3 separate regions of the Homo sapiens genome follow, and regions 1 and 3 are each reported to be linked to region 2. The links are microRNA targets in miRTarBase. Many come from high-throughput screens and were not tested one by one. Region 2 holds a microRNA gene; each other region holds the end of a gene's coding sequence.

Region 1 (3,354 bases), not on the chromosome of region 2:
AGCTCTTGTTAGCTGCCTCGTCGTCCTCTAAGCTATAAGAATGCAGTTTTAATATAGGTGGGTCTTCTTAGACATTTAAGTATCTGCAGCCCTAAAACAATGTCTTTGTTATAAATTTAGTTTTCCTGGAGATGAACAGAATGTTTAACTTCCCTTGTCATAACACATCATGTTAGGCTTCAATTTCTGCCTTTTTCTCTCTCACTGCCATCCGTGGAAGTTAAAATGGTCCATTTTTCTGAAAACATTGGTATATAATTTCTGTTTCCTTGAACCACGGGATCCAGCTATTTCCTTTCGCTTTGCTAAATGCACTGTTGGTTTTATTTCACGATTATTCAGTAGCTCTTCTTGACAGACTGTATATACTTTTGTACTTTGTACTTTGTATATTCTCATCCCAATTGCTGTTAATGTATTCCTGTGGGAATGAGTACTTCTATTTAATTGTTACTAATTTAAATACGTTTATCTGGAGTCCTATAATTAGGTTTTGGGATTTTTTTTTTAAAAAAAACTTGGTTTTTAGAATTTCCTTTTTGAGGAAGCAATAGCAAATTACTGGCAAATGATTAGCATTTAATACATGACTGATTTTGGTTTCTTCTTTTTTATTTTAATGCCTGTACACAGAATTCTATCGTGATGCAGAGAAGAAAGAACGGAGTGAAGCCATTTATGCCTACGGCAGCAGAAAGAGATGAAATCTTGAGAGCAGTGGGAAATATGCCCTATTGAATGTTTGCATTAAAAGTGTTTATATAACTTAGAAGCAGATGAATATTTCTAATAAATGATTGCTGTAATATTTAAGACTGTACACCCCTCACCCAGACAGACCTTAAGTTCTTCAAGTGGAGACAGTGAAGTCACCCCGTGTCCTTTTTGCTTGCTCTCAGTGCCATGCCGATGGTATGTTGCTGTTGGCTGTGTTGTGGCATGAGTTTGCATGACTTTCTGGAGGCATGGAGTTAGGTAAGGCTACATGAGAAATTGAGCTTTTCCACTGGGTTTTGAAAGAAGAGTATGATGTGAACAAGTAAAGACTGAATGGGGCTGAGATGAAGGCAATGTTTCCAAGGAAAGGAAATGTTATGAGCAAGAGTGTGAGGCAAGAGAAGCTGGAACCACATTCAGAGAGTATCCTGTAGATTGCTCCACCTAGAATCTCAGGTGGGTGGAGCAGTGGTGGGAGAAGACTGGAAAGGTAAGTTGAAGGTAAGGAATGTGTGGTGGGCCTCAGATCCCAGGCTCATTCCTCAAATCACTTCTTACTTCCCTCACTTATCTTTGTTTAAATAAGGTTAGTACATTCACTAGGGGCAAATGGGTTTTTCTAAATAAATGACATAAAAAAGAACTGGTTGTCTTTCTTTAAAGAAAGTCTTAGTTACAGGATTCTGTGATTAAAATCCTTAAATATTGGGTTGCCTTCTGCAGCTGTAGTATCAGTTTTTGAACCACAGTAATGGGAAGAAAGACAAATGGATTCCCTTAGAAGTAAGATTTCTATTTGCAGGATGAGTTGGGCAGGGAAAAGGGTCAGGGTTCATCAGGTGAACTCAACACTGGGATGAGACTAGAACTTCACTTTATGATATAAACACAATACGATTATTCAATGTGGTGACTGGGGTAGACTGTGAAGCAGCCCTCCTTATGCCCACTGCCTTTTAGAATCGTTTGTTTTATTCATGGTAGTTTTATGAAGACATACTATTATTGAATGAAATTTAATGTGTACTTGAAAACATTGCTTTTGTCCCTTCTCTTCATCTGGTCTTGGGTCAAGAACATTGTTTTAATGGCTGCCGACAATGAACTGTCTGTCTGAGTCTAAAACCAAGCTCAGGTTTCTAAGCCACATGACCTTGATTGTTAAATGTAGTTATATTTGAATAAAAAATGAATCATTTCCAAAATTCTTTTGATTTGTATTGACTGCTATAAAAATGATGGATTAAAATAGGACCAGAAAAGAATGAATGCCTACCTGTGTAAGAAGTATTTTTGTATTTTTAAGCACACTTGTTAAAGGGCTTGGAATTTTAATGTCACTCCTTTGAAGGTACATACCAATATCAACATTCATCTTGTAACTAGTTGTCCTGATGCCACTCTTGTTGAGTCTTTATTTTCAGTACCTTTGCCTTATTGCTGAGCACTTCAGGTAAAGACTTGGACACCTGCCTTCCCACCAGGCCCTCGTGCCCGCTGGGCCTCTGGGTTGAGGTTGATGTAGTTCAAGAACTGCAGTTGGCTGCCGGGCGCGGTGGCTTACGCCTGTAATCCCAGCACTTTGGGAGGCCGAGGCAGGCGGATCACGAGGTCAGAAGATCAAGACCATCCTGGCTAACATGGTGAAACCCTGTCTCTACTAAAAATACAAAAAAAAATTAGCTGGGCGTGGTGGTGGGTGCCTGTAGTCCAAGCTACTTGGGAGGCTGAGGCAGGAGAATGGCGTGAACCTGGGAGGCGGAGCTTGCAGTGAGCCATGATGGCGCCACTGTACTCCAGCCTGGACGACAGAGCGAGACTCCATCATAGAAAGAAAAAAAAAGAACTGCAGTTGGCTTACCAGTGGCACTCTGTAGGGAGCTATAGTTCTGGAGATTGCGGAAGAAACTTTTTTTTTGAGATGAGTGTCGCTCTGTTGCCTAGGCTGGAGTGCAGCGGTATTATCTTGGCTTACTGGAACCTCTGCCTGCCAGGTTGAAGTGATTCTCGTGCCTCAGCCTCCCAAGTAGCTGGGACTACAGGCACCCATCACCATGCCCAGCTAATTTTTGTATTTTTAGTAGAGATGGGGTTTCACCATGTTGCCAGGCTGGTCTCAAACTCCTGGCCTCAAGTGATCCACCTGCCTCAGCCTCCTAAAGTGCCAGAATTACAGGCATGAGTCACTGCAACTGGCCCAGGGGAGAAACGTTTAAATGCTCAGGACCAAGGGATAGCTCAGTCCAAACCTGGATGTGGGGGCAGAACTAGAGCTGCAGGGTTCGAGTGATCACCAGAGCCTCCCTCCTAGGACTGTGGCACATGGAGTCCACACAAAGACATGCCTCTTACTTGACTTCCTGAAAGACTTTAAAAAGATAACAGCCTTATTGAGATATGTCATGTATATCAACTCTTAAAAGTATGCAATTCAGTGATCTTGTATATTCATGAAGTTGTGCAGCTATCACCACAATCAATTTTAGAAAGTAATCATTTCATTACCCCAAACTGAAACCCTGTACCTGTTAGCACTCACTCCCCTTTTCATTTTACTTTTTATTTATTTATTTTTTTGAGAGAGACTTGCTCTATCGCCCAGGCTGCAGTGCAGTGGCACAATCTCAACTCACTGCA
Region 2 (3,000 bases):
CAGAATGAAGCTCTTTGGAAGCTGTGAGGTGCACTACCCCACTATGACCACACGATGCCACCCTTGAGCTGCACACGCATTCCCACCCGCATGCTGGCAGCAGGTGGCAGAGCAACAACTGCTTTGCAGCTGGGTGGGATGGGGAGGGTCAGGATAGCATCAGGGGCAGGAGCTCCCGTGGTCACAGGTATTATTCAGCCGTGCCGTTTTGCTCGTCGCCATCGTCCCTTCTCCCACTGCTGTCTGGCTGTCACCTAGTGGGGGCTCGGTTGGCCTCACAAACCTGCAGTAATTGTTCCTGGACCCGTAAACCCAGCCTTTCTTCCTGAACCTCCACAGCAAACCCCCAGCCCCACTCAGGATCCTTTAGCACCTCTGAACTCAGTTGCAGGCGACACGCCAGCTCACATATTGCCTTAAAATGGCCTCCAGCAGCTTCTGCTTAGGGAAGGAATCTTCCAGGGGCCTTGTTTCTTGAGGGCTGTGGCTCTGCAGCAGTAAAGGCCTTGGGGAGGCCTGATGCCACGCCCCCAACCTTGGGCTGTCTCGGCACAAGTGGCCACCCCAGGGCCGAGTGGGAGGATTCCAGATAAGGAGGGTCCCTGGCCCCTGGCCATTTCCTGGCCGCAGAGCACTACGGCACTCGGCACTCGGGAGCCTGGTCATCCGTCTCATTGTCAGTGGTGGACAACAAGATGGATGTCCGTGTGGTCATTCCTGACCTGCCGTGGCCTCACCGCGGCTGCAGTGTCGATCCCCCAGCTATCCGGCATGAGGAGGAGGGACTGGGAATCTACAACAACCTGTAATTGGCATAACCTGTTTTCTGCCCCATTTATTTATTTATTTAGATGGAGTCTTGCTCTCTCACCCAGGTTGGAGTGCAGTGGCGCAGTCTCGGCTCATTGCAACCTCTGTCTCCTTGGTTCAAGCGATTCTCTGCCTCAGCCTCCCAAGTAGCTGCAATTACAGACTTGCGCCACCATGCCCAGCTAATTTTTGTATTTTTAGTAAGAGTCGGGGTTTCACCATGTTGGCCAGGCTGGTCTTGAACTCCTGACCTCAAGTGATCTGTCCACCTCGGCTCCCCAAAGTGCTGGGATTACAGATGTGCCCGGCCCCTGGCCTCTTTAGAGGTGAGGACCCCACTTAGCTGTATTTCACTTCTCTCCATATCATATAGGTCCTCCTCTGTCCTTTATCCCAACATGGTTCTCACCTTTGGGGAAGTTTCCTTAGGCCCCCAACCCAACTCTTGTATATGACCCCTGCTGTCAGCTCTGTCCCCTGTCAGTCCCCTGCCCCCTGAGGGCTGACACCTGTGGGGCCTCCCCCAGGGATGGTAACTCACACCTTCCTCTTTCCCAGGGTGTGCAATTCCACCTCCTCTCTCTAGAGGTCTCTGGATCCTCAGCAAGCAATATTATTGACTCTAACAAGCAATCAAGGACTTTATTTGAAGGATTTGGGGGTAGTTCACAGAATGAAGGGCGCGGTTAAGATCCAGGCCAGGGCAGGGCAGACATTAGGCAAGTCAGTGATACAGGCAGTGGAAGCTTGTCATCTTCTCGCCATACACTGCTGGGATCAATCAGCATCAATTATTTTGTTCCCAATCTCAGTATCCTTTACAGATTTCAATTCTTGTGTCCACCCAGTGGGCAGAAGAGGGCAGGACCTCTTGAGTGACAACCCACCCAGAAGTGTCCATGGTGTGGAAGGGGGTCATCCCCAAAAGGATTTCAGAAGGAGATCATCTGTATACAGAGGACAGAATGCTGGGAGAGCTGTGTGACCTTCATCCACCAAAGCGGTTTTCCCTGGCATGTAATTGAGCCACTCCTTTATTTTTCTTATCTGTGGAGTCTCTCACTTGACATTGCCCACTGGTAAATGATGAAAAGAGTGGCATAAGTGAGGCCCAGAGAGGCTCAGTGCTGGACTTAAAGTCACTCAGCAACTCTAAAGGAGAGCCAGGAGACCCCAGTTCCATTCACTGTTCTTGGGTTTGCTGTGACTCACCTGGAGCCCTTGGGGCAGCCTCCCCTGTGGACAAGGCCTCCCGCAGATACTTTTTGGGGTAAGGGCTTCCTGACTACTGTTGAGAGGAACAGCAAGCCCAGACCGCAAAAAGATCCAAAGGAGACAGCAGCCATCCCATGGCAGGGGGGCTGGAGGGGAGGCTGTGGCCCCTCCAGGGCTTAGCTGGTACCAAGAAGACCGGGTCGGGGAGGGAGAGCCAGGACCTAGGGGGAGGAGGGGAGTGGGGGGGGAGGTGGGGGGAGAGGAAGAAAAGAGTCCTGGGGAGAAGAGAAAGCTGAGAGCCCCAGAGGCAGGAGGCAGGCAACAGGAATCCCAGCTGTAATCCCCCTCCACCTCCCAAAGTCACAACCTCCTTCTTATGAGACAGAAGTGGCCAAGCTGTAGCTCACTCCTGGGAAGGGGCAGTTTGAACCTGCGGCTCCCCTTCATTTTCCCCTTTCATCTCCTGCATCCTGCGCCTCCTCAGAGCCCTCTGCTGTGCCTGGGCTTCATTTGGATGGTCTGGCCCAGGGTCTCTCTGCAGCCGTGGTGCTTCCTTGGTTCCACAGTGTCAGTACACCCAGTTCCCACAGGGGACTCTCCCAGAGTCTCAAAATGCTAAGTGCCCCAAGAAGAAGATGCCATCCCTGGTTGAGACCTTGGGGACAGACATCTTTGAACTTGCAAGTGTGGGCTCTGATGTGCTTTCAGCAGACGCTGCTGTCATGGAAAAGGCAGGGGTCCCAGGGCCAGGCCAACTTAGCCTGATTAAATTGCTCCTGGCTGTCTCAAATGAGCTGTTTCTCCAAGGTGGCAGCTAAGCCCCGCATCTCACAGTGGCCTCCTGCTTCCATAACATGAGGTCAGCAATGCTACACAGAGGTCCCTGAGCCAACCTGGCCTGGGTCTTACCTGCCTTAGAGGCTGCAGCCCTGGAAGAGGCAAGGAGATTCCAGAAGTGTCACCATTGCAGGTTTG
Region 3 (3,000 bases), not on the chromosome of region 2:
GCTCCCGCCAGCCTAACTCCTTTTCCCTAATTAGGACTTCACAACTAACGGAGGAACTAATAATTAATGTATTGAGAAAAACAGAAAATAATTACTTGTCCTCACATGCACACGTATGTTTATTGCAGCACTATTTACCATAGCAAAGACTTGGAACCAACCCAAATGCCCATCAGTGATAGACTGGATAAAGAAAATATGGCACATATACACCATGGAATACTATGCAGCCATAAAAAGAATGAGTTCATGTCCTTTGCAGCGACATGGATGAAGCTGGAAACCATCATTCTCAGCAAACTAACACAGGAACAGAAAACCAAACACCACATGTTCTTACTAATAAGTGGGAGTTGAACAATGAGAACACATGGACACAGGGAGGTGAACATCACAGACCAAGGCCTGTCGGGGGGTGGGGGGCAAGGGGAGGAAGAGCATTAGGACAAATACCTAATGCATGTGGGACTTAAAACCTAGATGATGGGTCAATAGGTGCAGCAAACCACCTTGGAACATGTATACCTATGTAACAAACCTGCAGGTTCTGCACATGTAACCCAGAACTTAAAGTAAAATAAAATAAAATAATAATTACTTGTCCTAGCATATGGGAATCAAGGAACCAAAAGGCAGTGTTTAAATTATATAAACTGGCCGGGCACAGTGGCTTATGCCTGTAATTCCAGCCCTTTAGGAGGCCAAGGCGGGCAGAATCCTTGACCCCAGGAGTTCAAGATCAGCCTGGGCAACAATACAAAACCCCATTTCTACAAATGATACAAAAAATTAGCTGAGCATGATGGCTCGCACCTGAGTCCCAAGTACTCAGAAGGCTGAGGTGGGAGGATCCCTTGAGCCTGGGAAGTTGAAGCTGCAGTGAACCATGATTGCATCATTGCACTACAGCCTGGGCAATGGGAATGAAACCGTGTCTCAGAAAAAAAAATAATAAAAGTAAAAAATAAAATAAGTGGCATAAACTATGAAGTAGCAGTTGTAACATATTTTTAGGATTATGTGGGTACAGTAGGCATAACTCTAAAGTGGTTTCTAATTGGTACACCAGTGGCCTAGTGTACACCTGCATAATCCCTTCCCCTTTTGTTTGAGTAGGATTTGGGATTATGATGGGATGTTACTCCGTGGTTGGAGTACACTAAATAACAAAGGTGAGGCAGTTTTTCAGATGCAATTAAGGTTCCAAATCCTTTCATCTTTTTTTTTTTTTTTTTTTTTTGGAGAGGAGTCTGGCTCTGTCACCCAGGCTGGAGTGCAGTGGTGCAATCTCGACTCACTGCAACCTCCACCTCCTAGGTTCAAGCGATCCTCTCGACTCAGCCTCCCAAATAGCTGGGATTACAGGTGTGCACTACCACACCCAGCCAATTTTTGTATTTTTAGTAGAGACAGGGTTTCACCATGTTGGCCAGGCTGGTCTCAAACTCCTGACCTCAAGTGATCCACCCGCCTTGGCCTCCCAAAGTGCTGCGATTACAGGCATAAACCACCACACCCAGTCCAAATCCTTCCATCCTAAGTCAATCAAAATTAATTTTTTCATCACAAAAATGATGAAAATAGATCAGCTTTGATTCATAACAGAGAAAACCACTCTAAGTGTTAAAATCAAAACAGAAGATAATGCCTAATGAAAGGAGGTCAGGGGTATAGGATAGTTGGTGGAAAAAAATATTGATAATCATTACATGCTTGCCTGTATTATTTTAAATTTTTTAATTAAAAAATATATTATTTTGTAGTCACATGGACAACAAAACCAAAACATTACAAATCTCCAGAAAGTGCAATGCATAAGCTCTCTTAGTTCAAATTAAACATTTGAAAGATATTATTTTTCATCCTATATCTTTTGTCAGTTACCTGAAATGCATTTTTCCCAAATCAATCTTCATACAAGAATGTGAAGAGGGCCAGGGATGGTGGTTCACACCTATAATCCCAGCACTTTGGGAATCCAAGGTGGGAGAATCCCTTGAGGCCAGGAGTTCAAGACCAGCCTGGGCAACATAGCAAGACCTTGTCTTGACAAAAAATTAAAAATTAAAAATTAGTCGGGCATAGTGACATGGTGCCTGCAGTCCTAGCTACTTGGGAGGCTGAGTCAGGAGGATCACTTGAGCTTGCAATGAGCTATGATCTTGCCACTATGCTCCAGCCTGGGCAGTGTGAGTTAAATTTTATTTTCTAAATTTTATTTGATGTGAATTAAATCTTATTTAAATTTCTGCTGAGAATTAGCAAGAATGTAAATAAAATTACATAAATGTGTAATAAAACTACATTGAATTTAACATTAAATATATACATTAAATGAAAATACAAAATTCTTTATGTTAATTTTATAATTCTCAAATGTAGGTGAACGAATTTCATCAATTTTAAAACACATTGTTTCACATACATGACAATTGTATATGACACTGTTTAAAAACATTTTATAGACTCCAGAAGTAGACAATTAGTAATAATATAACATGCAACTGTATCATTGTTAGTAATGTTGGGTCTTTACTCTCCACCTTCTCTGCCCCAAGAAACATTTAAATGAGCTGTTGCTTACAGATATAACGATTTTTATCTTCACAGGATTCATCTAAAGCATTTCCATTTGGATTATACGCTATGCAGTTCTTTGTATTAAAAGTTTCAAATGATGGAAATCTGTAATGAAGAAGAAAATGTTCACATACACAAAAAGGAAGTAAGAATGTTCAGGGCATTTTTCAATTAAATGATATAAATTTTAAAAGCATTTGAGTGAGATACTAACATATTGAGTCCTTTTTTTTTCAGTAACCACAATTTTCATGATTTTCTAGTGTAATGCTACAAAATACCCAGTTATTTTCTCACTAATCAATAGCATTGAGGCCAGGGATTTTTTCCTTGCTGTTTTTCTGTTGTCATTAATGGTTTAAATATGTGATATGCTTTTCTTCTATTTTATTTAAGATGTATTATCTGATCTAGTCTAGG

What was found. Region 2 holds the annotated microRNA hsa-miR-129-1-3p (AAGCCCUUACCCCAAAAAGUAU, at 2,069-2,090, opposite strand). A microRNA usually pairs through its seed, bases 2 to 8, with sites in the 3' UTR of a target mRNA and lowers its output. Matches are read on the target gene's strand: a 7mer-m8 pairs with bases 2 to 8, a 7mer-A1 pairs with bases 2 to 7 and ends in A, and an 8mer does both.
Region 1: the mRNA of CHCHD7 is a reported target of hsa-miR-129-1-3p. Seed matches in the 3' UTR shown: 7mer-m8 at 2,035-2,041.
Region 3: miRTarBase lists KLRD1 as a target of hsa-miR-129-1-3p. Seed matches in the 3' UTR shown: 7mer-m8 at 688-694.

What each region holds. Positions count from the first base shown.
Region 1 is chr8:56,216,698-56,220,051 of GRCh38, forward strand. CHCHD7 (coiled-coil-helix-coiled-coil-helix domain containing 7) reads left to right here. Exons shown (of 4, transcript NM_001011671.3): 4 at 634-2,112. The coding sequence ends at 738. Among named protein-coding and RNA genes, the nearest start is that of CHCHD7, 6.6 kb to the left of the region's middle.
Region 2 is chr7:128,207,010-128,210,009 of GRCh38, reverse strand. It overlaps MIR129-1 (microRNA 129-1), which reads right to left and starts at 2,138; the gene lies at 2,067-2,138. It overlaps LOC124901744 (a long non-coding RNA gene), which reads right to left. Exons shown (of 2, transcript XR_007060516.1): 1 at 2,935-3,000.
Region 3 is chr12:10,314,358-10,317,357 of GRCh38, reverse strand. It overlaps KLRD1 (killer cell lectin like receptor D1), which reads right to left. Exons shown (of 6, transcript NM_002262.5): 6 at 1-2,685. The coding sequence ends at 2,565. Among named protein-coding and RNA genes, the nearest start is that of KLRD1, 8.0 kb to the right of the region's middle.